Homo sapiens: one gene and its partners. The protein of the gene in region 2 interacts with the protein of the main gene of each other region in a pairwise test. Each region holds a gene or a part of one and is shown on either strand. Other genes may lie near its edges.

Region 1 (3,655 bases), on a different chromosome or scaffold from region 2:
GAAAGGTGTTAACTAACAATGAAGCTGTTGGGTTGTGAGATCAAGACAAAGGGGCAAGAAGGCCACAGAAATGAGAAAGAGAGCAGGGCTGAAACCACAGTGAGTGCCAGAGACTCTAGAGCACAGTGCTTGTCTGTCCTGGGTAGGCAGGTGCCAGTCAGCAGATGACTGCCATCATAGTTCCAGCTATGCTATTAGCAAGTTTTCTGATTTTTTAAAGAAAAATTCTAAGTGTGGATATTTTCAAAAGGAGTTATCTCTCGATTTTTAAGTGTTGGCAACTAATCAAATCTGTGCACAAAAAACCACAAAGGCTTGGGTCCTTTGGTTTACGATGTGACCTCTTCTGAGGAGGTATTAACATTTTATAAGAGATCTGCTTCCTTAGAGAAATTTGGAGACCTAGGGTGGTCTAAGAAAAATCACTTCTCCTTCTAGCCAAGACTGGCAGTCCCAACTCTGCTCTGGTGAAAGGTTTGGCCAAGCCACCATCTCCCCACCACAGTTGCTAGTTCCTTCAAGGAGGAACTGAAGGAACACTGACTCTCAACAGCTGTTGCCCGTTCCCAATATCATGGCTACATCACAATACTAGAGGGAAATAATTACTGTCATGGTGATAAGAATTTTAAGTGTACATTTCTAAGATGTTTTTAGTTAGCTAGTGAAAATACAATTCAAAAATATAAGCCATTTATATGGGAATATTGACTTTCAGTAATATTCATTTATACTTTTGCATGTAACTGTTCTTTAAGTTACTCTTTAAAATAACAATTAACTTTTTTTTTCTTTCTTTTTTGAGATGGAGTCTCACTCTATCGCTCGAGCTGAAGTGCAGTGTCGCGATCTCCGCTCACTGCAACCTCTGTCTCCTGGGTTCAAGCAATTCTCCCACCTCAGCCTCCCCAGTAGCTGAGACTACAGGTACCTGCCACCACACCCGGCTAATTTTGTAGTTTTAGTAGAGGCAGGGTTTCGCCATGTTGGCCAGGCTGGTCTTGAACTCCTGACCTCAAGTGATCCACCCCCCACTTGGCCTCCCAAAGTGCTGAGATTGCAGGCTTGAGTCACTGGGCCCCTGCCTGCTTAACTTAATACTAAATAACATATGAGAGAGTACAATGAAACAACTTAGGAAGTTTTTTCTTTTAGTTTTCTTCATTTCTCTAGTAAGCCAGTATATCTCCAGCCAAACAATTCACTGTGTTTTTTTAGAAAAAGTCACAGATGGAAACAAAGTTACCTGAATGTGGAGTCTCTGTAGAAATGGCAAACCACATTTTCACTCTCCTTGACTTCTTGAAAAAAGTCTCTTTCACTAGGGATTTCTCTGTATTCCCCATGTCCTTTAGAAAGCCATTCCTAATTTGGAGAGAGGCAAAACATTACACATGTGAGATATCTCTTTCAGAACCACTTGACATTTTAAGTGTCCAAATCACCATCGTATTTTGTAATGAAGTCAATTAAAAAAAAAAGTTTTTTTTTTGTTTGTTTTTGTTTTTTTTTTTTGAGACGGAGTCTTGCTCTGTCACCAGGCTGGAGGGCAGTGGCGCGATCTTGGCTCACTGCAACCTCCGCCTCCTGGGTTCAAGCAATTCTCCTGCTTCAGCCTCCCGAGTAGCTGGGACTACAGGCGGGCACCAGTATGTCCAGCTACTTTTTGTATTTTTAGCAGAGATGGGTTTTCACCATGTTGGCCAGGATGGTCTCGATCTCTTGACCTTGTGATCCGCCTGCCTCGGCTTCCCAAAGTGCTGGGATTATAGGTGTGAGCCACCGCGCCCGGCCCAAAAGTGTTATTTATTTATTTTTTTTTTGAGAATGGGTCTTGCTAAAGTTGCCCAGGATGGAGTGTGGTGGCATGATCATAGCTCACTGCAGCCTCAAACCTCCTGGGCTCAAGAGATCCTCCTACGTCAGTCTCCCAAGGAATTGGGACCACTGGCGCATGCCACACCACGCCTGGCATTTTTTTTTTTTTTTTTTGGTAGAGACGGGGTTTTTACTATATCGCCCAGGCTGGTGTCAAACTCCTCGGTTCAAGCAATCCTCCCACCTTGTCCTCCAAAAGTGCTGGGGTTATAGGCATGAGCCACTGTGCCTGGCTGAAGTCAAAGAAAAATGAATGTTTTTTAGCAATTTACTTTCCTGTTTCTACTGTCAATGCAAAACTAGTCTACGGACAGTGAACGTCTCCACAGCATGGCCTGGGTTCAAGACAATTACCTGTCTTTGTAGCTTAAAACATCTATTTTCTCAGAACTTTCAAAATAAAAATTTAGACTTGAGAGACTCAGAATGTAAATATCCACTTAACTCTATCCATGTACTCTTAAACTACTAAAACCAGAAGCATTTGATCCAAGTTACTACAAGTCTTTTAAAAATAATGCTCATGAGGCTGGGTGCAGTGGCTGATGCCTGTAATCCCAGCACCTTGGGAGGCTGAGGCGGCTGGATCACCTGAGGTCAGGAGTTCCAGACTAGCCTCGCCAACATGGTGAAACCCCGTCTCTACTTAAAAAAAAAAAAAAAATACAAGAAATTACCTAGCTGTGGTGGTAGGCGCCTGTAATCCCAGCTACTTGGGAGGCTGAGGCAGGAGAATTGCTTGAACCCAGGAGGCAGAGGTTGCAGTGAGCTGAGATCACGCCACTGCCTGGGCAACAGAGTGAGACTCTGTCTCAAAAATAAATAAAAATAAAAATAATGCTTATGAGATAAACCCAATTCGTCTTGGGGAGAAAAGGAGGATACTGCAGCTCTGAAGCTCAAGAGCCCTGTCTGCTTTTGATAACCACTTTATAAATGCTTAAAAAGTCTCTATACCTGCACTAATTGTTAGAAAGGTCATCTCACACTGAACTGCAATATATCCATAATTCTGGTCTGTGGATTCCAGCTTGGATAAAGATTAAAGTTTTAATCTCTTTCCCACGTGGGCCCTTCAAACATCACATATTGCCTAAGTTTTCCCTTCTCCACACTGAACACTTCCAGTTCCTTTTAACTGTTCTCATATGAAAAGATTTCTAGAGTTCCTACTCTTCCAGGATATCAACTAAACACACTCTAATTCACCAATGTCTTCTTAAAATGTGACAGAGGTCTGAATCCAGCCTCCAGAAGGGGTCCAACCAAAGAGCCAGGAGGGCCATCTCCCTTCCTCCTCTGGACGTCAGTGAACGTGGCCCAGACTATATTGATGACTGCGGTGTCAAAATCACATCCATTTACATCGAGCTGACACTTGCAGGATACCCTGATATTTTCTTATGTGAAATTTCTACACACAGTTTAACTCTCAAATACAATTCCCTAATGACATATGACATTTCATGACTGCTTTCACAACTTACCAATGATATGTGCCCTTAAAAAGTATTTGTTAGGCTGGACGCAGTGGCTCACACCTGTAATCTCAGCACTTTGGGAGGCTGAGGCAGGTGGATCACTTGAGGACAGGAGTTTGAGAACAGCCTGGGCAACACGGCGAAACCCTGTCTCTACAAAAAATATGAAAATTAGCCAGGTGTGTTGGCACACACCTGTAATCCCAGCTCCTCGGGGGCTGAGGCACAATAATTGCTTGAACTCCGAAGGCGGAGGTTGCAGTGAGCCAAGATCACACCACTGCACTCCAGCCTGG
Region 2 (3,755 bases):
TCAAGAAATCACTGGTCTTCTAGCAGCCAAAACGAATCAGCTCAGGGTCAGTTAGGCCACCCTGCTGCTTTAGAATGAAAAGGTAGATGGCATAGCAAGGTTTGGCTGACTAGAAGAATGTTTCACATTCAGAAAGAGGCCTCCCTTATTGGGCAGTATATTCCTACTGCAGTGCTCAGAGTATTAAAGAGGGCATTGCTCAGGTCCTGTGGGAGGACTTGTGCATTGGGCCAGATTAGTTCCTGTAGAAGTGTTTACTTCTTTCTCGGTATGTGCAAAACTCTACTTAAGTGTGGTTTTCTCCTTAAAAATCTCTTGTTCTAAGGTTCTATTATAATTTTTATTTTGTCACTTTTTATATTGGCAGATAATTTGGCTTCAGTTTGACTGTTTCAGTCCATTTCATTTTTAAAAAACTTTTATTTAATTATATATAAAACATGGTTGCCTTCTATTAGTATAGAGTATTAAATAAGACTGTGATCTGCAGTTTTGTAATGTGTAATCAGATCATTCTCTTTCAGAGTGACAGCATTTTTGCTTTAAATTCATCATAGCATTGTGTAAAAGTAAAAATGCCAAAAATTAAACATGAAATCAAAATGGAGTATATTCAAAGTATTTTCTTAATTTTTATATATTATAGGAGATGAGAATGAATATGGAAAATCTAGTTAGGAATGAAGATATTCTACATTCAGAGGTGAGAAGAAAAAGTCATTCTATGTTATGTGAAATGAATTGAGTATCCTAGAATGTAAAGCTTAATTTTGATGCATAAGTAGCTAAATTTTTAGCAAGTATATTATCAAAACTGATAGTCCATGTATATTTTCCGGTGATAACAAGTCACAAATAATGTGCTTTGAAGCAAAATCTCACAATAGGTAAAAATTGGACATTCAGTTTGTGTTTGGATTTTTAAAAACTAGGCTCTCTTGAGATATTGAAGCTATTTACCACATAATTACTTACAATTATTTTAAATTTCTGCAGGTATTTTTAAAAAAAGTTCTAGTATTTATTACCAGAATTGTAGCTTTGCATTCTAGGATACTCAATTCATTACCAGAATTCTCTTGTCATTAACAGAAATTGGTTAATTCCACTAATTAATAATGTTGAATTTTAATGTTATAAATCAGAAAATTTTTAATCAAAATTGAAAGAAAAGTAATGTATTAATTTTGAAATCATTTAAAAGTAAAAATCAATTTTTTGATTGTAGGAAGCAACACTAGACTCAGGCAAAACACTAGCTGAAATCAGCGATCGTTATGGAGCACCTAACTTGAGCAGAGTGGAAGAACTTGATGAACCAATGTTTTCTGATGTCAGTATCAGTGTGTTTTGTGAAAAAACTCGTTTTTGTTTTTGTTTTTGATTTTTTTTACTTAGGTAAAGCCTAGGGAAAATGAGGCTAGGCCAGGATTGGTTGGCAAATAGGCCTTTTGCTTCAGAGAAAGAAAATCAGTTCCCTGGTTGCGGATTATATTCCTAATTGGCATTCTGCCCTTTTGTGAAGTGTGTCACTGGCTTATCTATATCTCCGTATCTGTGACTTCAAAACCTCTTCAAAATATGTTTTAAAATCATTTTGTGAAATATATAATCTTTAAATTTGGTGTGGGGGGCACGATTTTTGTTCTCAGTAGCAAACCCTGGAACCAAATTAATGCCTTAATGAGAATGCATGCTTCTCCAGTATGTAAGTACATTTGTTTATTTAAGAAACATGCCACATCTTCCATATGCCAGGCACTGTGCCTGATGCTGTGGTGAATAAGGCAGATGGCTTTGACCTTATGGAGTTTATTGTCAGGGGAGAAACAGACAATTAGATGAACATTTAATAGTCATGGTTAGTGGGACCACATAATTTATTGTCCAAACCAGTATGCTTTTGAGAATGAGAGCCGGATCAGCAGATGTAAGCCAGGACTGTCCTGGAAGAAGGGTACATTTTGGTCACTTTAATTGGTGTACACGGACAAGGGGGGACAGCCAGCACAGTTGAGGAACCTCAGTCAGGGAAGGAAGCTAATGATTTGCTACTCACTGGTGGCATGGGAGGCTGAGGATAGTGCTCCAGGCAGAGAGCATGGAAGGTGTGAAGACCCAGATAGGAGAGCGTGTAGAGGGAGTGAGGCAGGGAGGGGTGAGAGCTGAGGCCAGGGAGAAAGCAGGGGCCAGACCATGAAAGCACTTGTCATTTCTGTTCAGAGGCTTAGATTTTATCCTGAAGGCAGTGGAGACTCATATGATGAGAGCTACATTTTGCAAAGACCATCTGGTAACAGTGTGGGGAAGAAAATGGAGAAGTAGGTGTCAGGAGATGGCTTAGGAGGTAGTAATCTAGGGGACAAGATGTCGATGGCCTGAAGTAAATGTTGTTTTCAAGAGCTGTTCAGAAAATGGAGCTGCACAGACTCAGTGCTAATTGTTTAAAGTTTTATTAAAGGTCAGCTATGATTTGGCACTATGCAGGGAGCTAGAAAATGCCAATGAACAAAATGGATTGGGCTTCTGCCCTTGGGGGCCGTGGGCCAATGGGGAAGCTTCTTTGAGGGACAGAGTAGGGAGAGACCTGACCTGGGCTGGACAAGTCTTCCTCAGGAGGTGAAGTTCAAGGAATTAGCCTGAGATGAGCCCAGAGGAAAGAGACAGCAAAATGCTTTCAAGGGACTGAAGTCATCCAGTATTAATGGCTAACGTCCATGGAGCTAGGAAAATGGTGTGATTTTAAGCTGGAGAGGTGGATAAAGGCAGAGCACACTGGGTCTTGTATGTTGCCTTAGGGATTTTGGACTTAAGTGCAGTAGGAGTTATTGAAAGGACTTAAAGATTCAATCTGTGTTTTTATAAGGTGGAGAGAGGATTGGTGTGGAGCAGGAGTGGAAAAAGGGAGACCACTTAGGAAGTTATTGCACTGATCCAGATGTAAGATGACTAGGGTTAGACAGCAGAGATGGAGGGAACTGAGTGGATTTAAGATTGGCTTACAGGATCAGTGCGGGGCAGGGTCAGGATGAAGCCTAAATGTCTTCCTTGGGCTACTGAGTTAAGAGTGTTAACATTTGATGAGTTGATGAACATAAGAGGAAGCAGGTTTTTAAAAAATGATGGCTTCAGTTGCAGAGATGTTGACTCTCAGGTGGCTCTGAGATATGCAGGTGAAAACAGCCAAGAACAGTTGATGTTAGGAAGGGGCCCAGGCCGGAGATATAAATTCAGCAGTCATGGGCATATGTGCTGAATGAAGCAAGGGGATTGAGTAAGGTACCTAGGAGAGAGTGCAGTGTGTGAAGGCCTGGGGGCTCAGGGAGGAACCATTAGCAATTCTAACATTGAAGGGATGGCCACAGGAAGAGGAGCCTACAAGAAGGATGAGAATGCATAGTAAGAGAAGTAGAAGAAAGGATGGAACAATAACTACTTTGAGAACATAATTTATGGTTATATTCAATTTGAGTATCATTTGAAATCATCTGAAACTCCCAAAAAGTTTCATTCATGTAGTCACATAGAAGTTACCTAAAGTTTATTTCTTTGGCTTGTGCCTTTTCACAGTTCTAATTGTATTAAGGAATATTTACTTTTTGTTTTGCTTTTAGATTGCATTAAACATTGATCAAGATTTGTAGGACCAACCAACCTAAGAGCAATAAATGTTTTTGTTTGTTTCAAATTTCAAACCATGAGGTTCCCAATTTGTATTTTTTTCCTTCAAACTTGAACTCCCCTTTTTTTTTCCT
Region 3 (3,655 bases), on a different chromosome or scaffold from region 2:
GATACATACGACAACTTGGACGGACCTCAAGGGAAAAAAGCCAACCACAAAAAGTTACATACTGCATAATTCCATTTATATAACATTCTTGAAATAATAAAATACACAGATGGTGAACAGATTAGAGGTTGCCAATGTTCAGGGAAGGGGATGTGTAGCTATAGAGGGATTGCATGAAGGAGTTTTTTAGTGGTGGAAGAGTTCTGTATCTTGATTATTGTGATGGTGACATGAATCTACACATATGATTCTCTCAAAAATCTACACATCTGATTTCTCTCTTGTAAAACTCTCCTACTGCTGTCAGTTACCATCTAAAATTACAACTCTAATCATGTCCCTACTCTTCTCAGAAGCCTTCAATAGTTCCTGTTTATAGAATAAAAGTTCAAACTCTTAACATGGCATTCAAGGTCAGCCATTAGCTCACCCCAAGCTATATTTTCCATTTTAACTTTCATTATGATCCCATCTCACCCCCACTACTGGACTATTACTTATAGGTCCCTGGAAAAACCAACAATTCCCTCAGACTATAACACATTTTTCCTCATCTCAGTCTGTCAATATTTAATTCTTCAAGGCTTCCTTTAATATTGCTCTTGAATTACCTTTCACATATTCCTTTGTCTACACAGCACCACAACACTTTGTTTAAACCTCTATTAATCTTCTATTATACTGTTTTATACTTATATATTTATCTGTTTCTCACAAATTCCTGTCTTATCTTTTTATCACCTAGAGATACCAGTCTATGTACATCAAGATGTAAGAGTTGAATGAACTATGTCCAGGACATGGAGAAACAGTGTGATGGGAAGCAGATCTCTCATAGAGGCTTCTTGAAATCTGATCCTACTTTCAGCAACTTTAGCACTCCCTCCATCTTTAAAAAGAGACATCATTATTTGCATACCCCGTGAACTTGGGATTTGAACTAAGTACTTCCATAAAATGATTCTGCTGTTAATTACTCTCTTCTCTTCCAGTAGTTACCTTTTCTTTCCTTCATTTCTTTTATCTTCTCCCTGTACCTTCACTATTTTTATAATAAATAGGTAAACTGAAAAAAGTTCCATTAACCCATCAGAGAAAGGATGCCATAAAACATACATACTGGGCAGTATGTGTTCCACTGGCAAATTACTTATAGTGATTTTTCTATTTGGCTTTGTAGCTGTGAATCTCATTGCACAAATAAGACACAAAACAAATATTTAGGAAAGGAAAGAGCCAAAATAAGTCATATTGGGGAAATATTGTTCGTTATTGTAGTTTGAAAATTCTTTAAAATGAAAAAATTATGAAAAATACAGCCCAAGTATTGAACATTAATTTTTATTTACGTAATAAAAGAGTAGCCAAAGTTAAGTTTACTGTTCTCTCCATTATTTTATCCACAAGCTAAGCATATGGCAGTGGCCAGAATTCCCAAATAGCATCTCCTGTCCCCCACAACAAATGGCACAGAGAACACTCACTCCATTCATATCTGAATAAATAGTAATAATGGCCATCAAAACCATAATTCCACAATCATAAGATTAAAAGGGATTAAAAACTTTTTTCATACCATTATATATAATTAAGAAGGGTTACTTGAATAGCATACATTCAAAACATCAATCCATCTAAACAAAATATTGGTCTATAAAGTACTAACTCTCCAATCCTTACTTTTGGGCAAATTCACAAGAAATAAGCATAGAAATTACATATAACAATAAATTCCCTATATAAATGACTTTACAGACTTAACAGGTCTATAAGAAAAACCTTATTTTTTATTGTCTATATATTACATAAAACTGCTTTCAGGATTTATTATGTTGTCAGTATCTACTGTGTTGTTTACTGCCTCTTTTATAAACTATCACAAAATATGTTTCTCCAGAAGTTTAAAACTAGAAAAATGTTAATCTTTCTAGAAAAACTGGAGTGCTTCCTGTTATTTCACAAAGATAGCTATACTGTCCATTATATGTTCCTTTTTGCTTTGGTTGTCAAGCAAACTCAGAGCTAAATTTTGTACATGACTGCTGCTACTTTTTTTAACCTGAATCTTATGAAATTTTCTGTCCTTATACCCCAAACCATCATCCATTACTTGACACGCATTATTGCATGTCTTTTATTTTATATCTTCAAATCCTTTTTGGAAAGGGGTAGGTATAAGGATTAAGAGGTTATATAAATAAGTATTAGCAGTATTTTTGTTTGGGAAAAAATTTTATATGCACACCTTTGAAGATTTCTTCTTTTCCTTGGAGTGCTTTAGATTTGAAACTGAAGACATTATAATTTTACTGATTTCAAGTCCAGTTTGAAGCTGTAATATTTAAAAAAAAGGTTATAACATTGATTTGTAACATGCAAAAACACTGTAATGAGATATCAGGTCTAAGTTTATAAATATAAAAATGCTTTTTGGAGAAGAAAAGAAAAGAAAATCCAAGATACCGTTTTTGTACATGTGAAGGTCACTAAGTCTATTGGTAATTACAATAATTTTCTGTTTATAAAAGAATAAATTATTTAATATATGTACAGAAATCAAACTGAAAACAATCTATCCTAGGAGTTCCTTCAACTGAGAATATATGTATTTGTCAGAATTTCAAAAGATTAAAAAAGACCTCTTGGTAATACATCCATGTATCATACTGGCTGACTGAGAATTTCATTATTGTAACGAAAAGACAATTTAGGAAGCAGAAATTAGAATCTAGAACATAGGCTTCAGTTAATGAAAATAAAAATATAATAAAACATATATGGTTTACTGTGATAGATTATATAGTGCTATATTTACCTCAGAAGCTTTGTCTTGAAATAGCTTACGCTGATGTTCTTCTTCCTTAAGTTTTTCTTCTAAATGTTTAATCTTGTCCTGCAAAAGAGTAAAAACTAAGATTGTTACATAAAAACTAGAGCCAAATATCATTTGTTTCTTTTCCAAATAGAGTCCTAGGGGGTCTTGATTCTTAAGAGTTTGGCAAATTAAGGCAGAAAATAAGAAAAAGGAATGGCACAAGATGTTAAGATTTTTCTTGGCTTTCTTCCCACTTCTTTCTTTGCTTCTTTACCTTCTATTACATACAAGAAGAACAAAGGGAAAGCAAAGAATATACACACACACAGGCTTTATTAACTTCCAGCAACAAAATCATTATGATGAAACTTTTAAGGGTACTAAAGGTGTAGCAGGTCAAACAATTATAGTCTTGGGTCTCAACGTTTCATTCAAAACATAAAAAAAAAATTCTACTATTTGCATATATGTGATAAGAGTGTACTTTTGGGAGAAGAGTGAAAAGACATAATAGAAATATACAATGTGGTCCTTGTTACTTAAGAGCTTATACAGATTGAGGATCCCTTATCTTAAGTGTTTGGAACCAGAGATATTTTAGATTTTGGAATATTTTCATTACTGGTTCGGTATCCCTAATCCAAAAATTCAAAATCCTATATGCTCCAGTGAACATTTCTTCTGAACATTATTATTAGTGTTCAAAAAGTTTTGGATTTTGGAGTATATCAGATTTTGGATTTTTGGATTAAGGACACCCAACCTGTATTGTATGAAAAGAAAAAAAGAGCAATATTCATAAAACAACAAAACAACAAAGCAAGGAAATAACTTGACAGG

What was found.
Region 1: the proteins of DYDC1 (region 2) and TXNDC9 interact in binary tests that used the Homo sapiens proteins (3 or more experiments, as listed by UniProt).
Region 3: the proteins of DYDC1 (region 2) and CEP57L1 interact in binary tests that used the Homo sapiens proteins (3 or more experiments, as listed by UniProt).

What each region holds. Positions count from the first base shown.
Region 1 is NC_000002.12:99,326,289-99,329,943, forward strand, and holds part of TXNDC9 (thioredoxin domain-containing protein 9), read right to left. Parts: intron 1,366-3,655; coding exon 1,247-1,365; intron 1-1,246. UniProt on the Homo sapiens protein: Significantly diminishes the chaperonin TCP1 complex ATPase activity, thus negatively impacts protein folding, including that of actin or tubulin.
Region 2 is NC_000010.11:80,336,045-80,339,799, reverse strand, and holds the end of DYDC1 (DPY30 domain-containing protein 1), read left to right. Parts: intron 1-646; coding exon 647-703; intron 704-1,228; coding exon 1,229-1,333; coding exon of another isoform or gene 1,334-1,384; exon of another isoform or gene 1,385-3,614; coding exon 3,615-3,644; 3' UTR 3,645-3,695; downstream 3,696-3,755. UniProt on the Homo sapiens protein: Functions as part of axonemal radial spoke complexes that play an important part in the motility of sperm and cilia. Plays a crucial role during acrosome biogenesis.
Region 3 is NC_000006.12:109,154,468-109,158,122, reverse strand, and holds part of CEP57L1 (centrosomal protein CEP57L1), read right to left. Parts: intron 2,894-3,655; coding exon 2,816-2,893; intron 2,333-2,815; coding exon 2,246-2,332; coding exon of another isoform or gene 2,234-2,245; exon of another isoform or gene 1,326-2,233; intron 1-1,325. UniProt on the Homo sapiens protein: Centrosomal protein which may be required for microtubule attachment to centrosomes.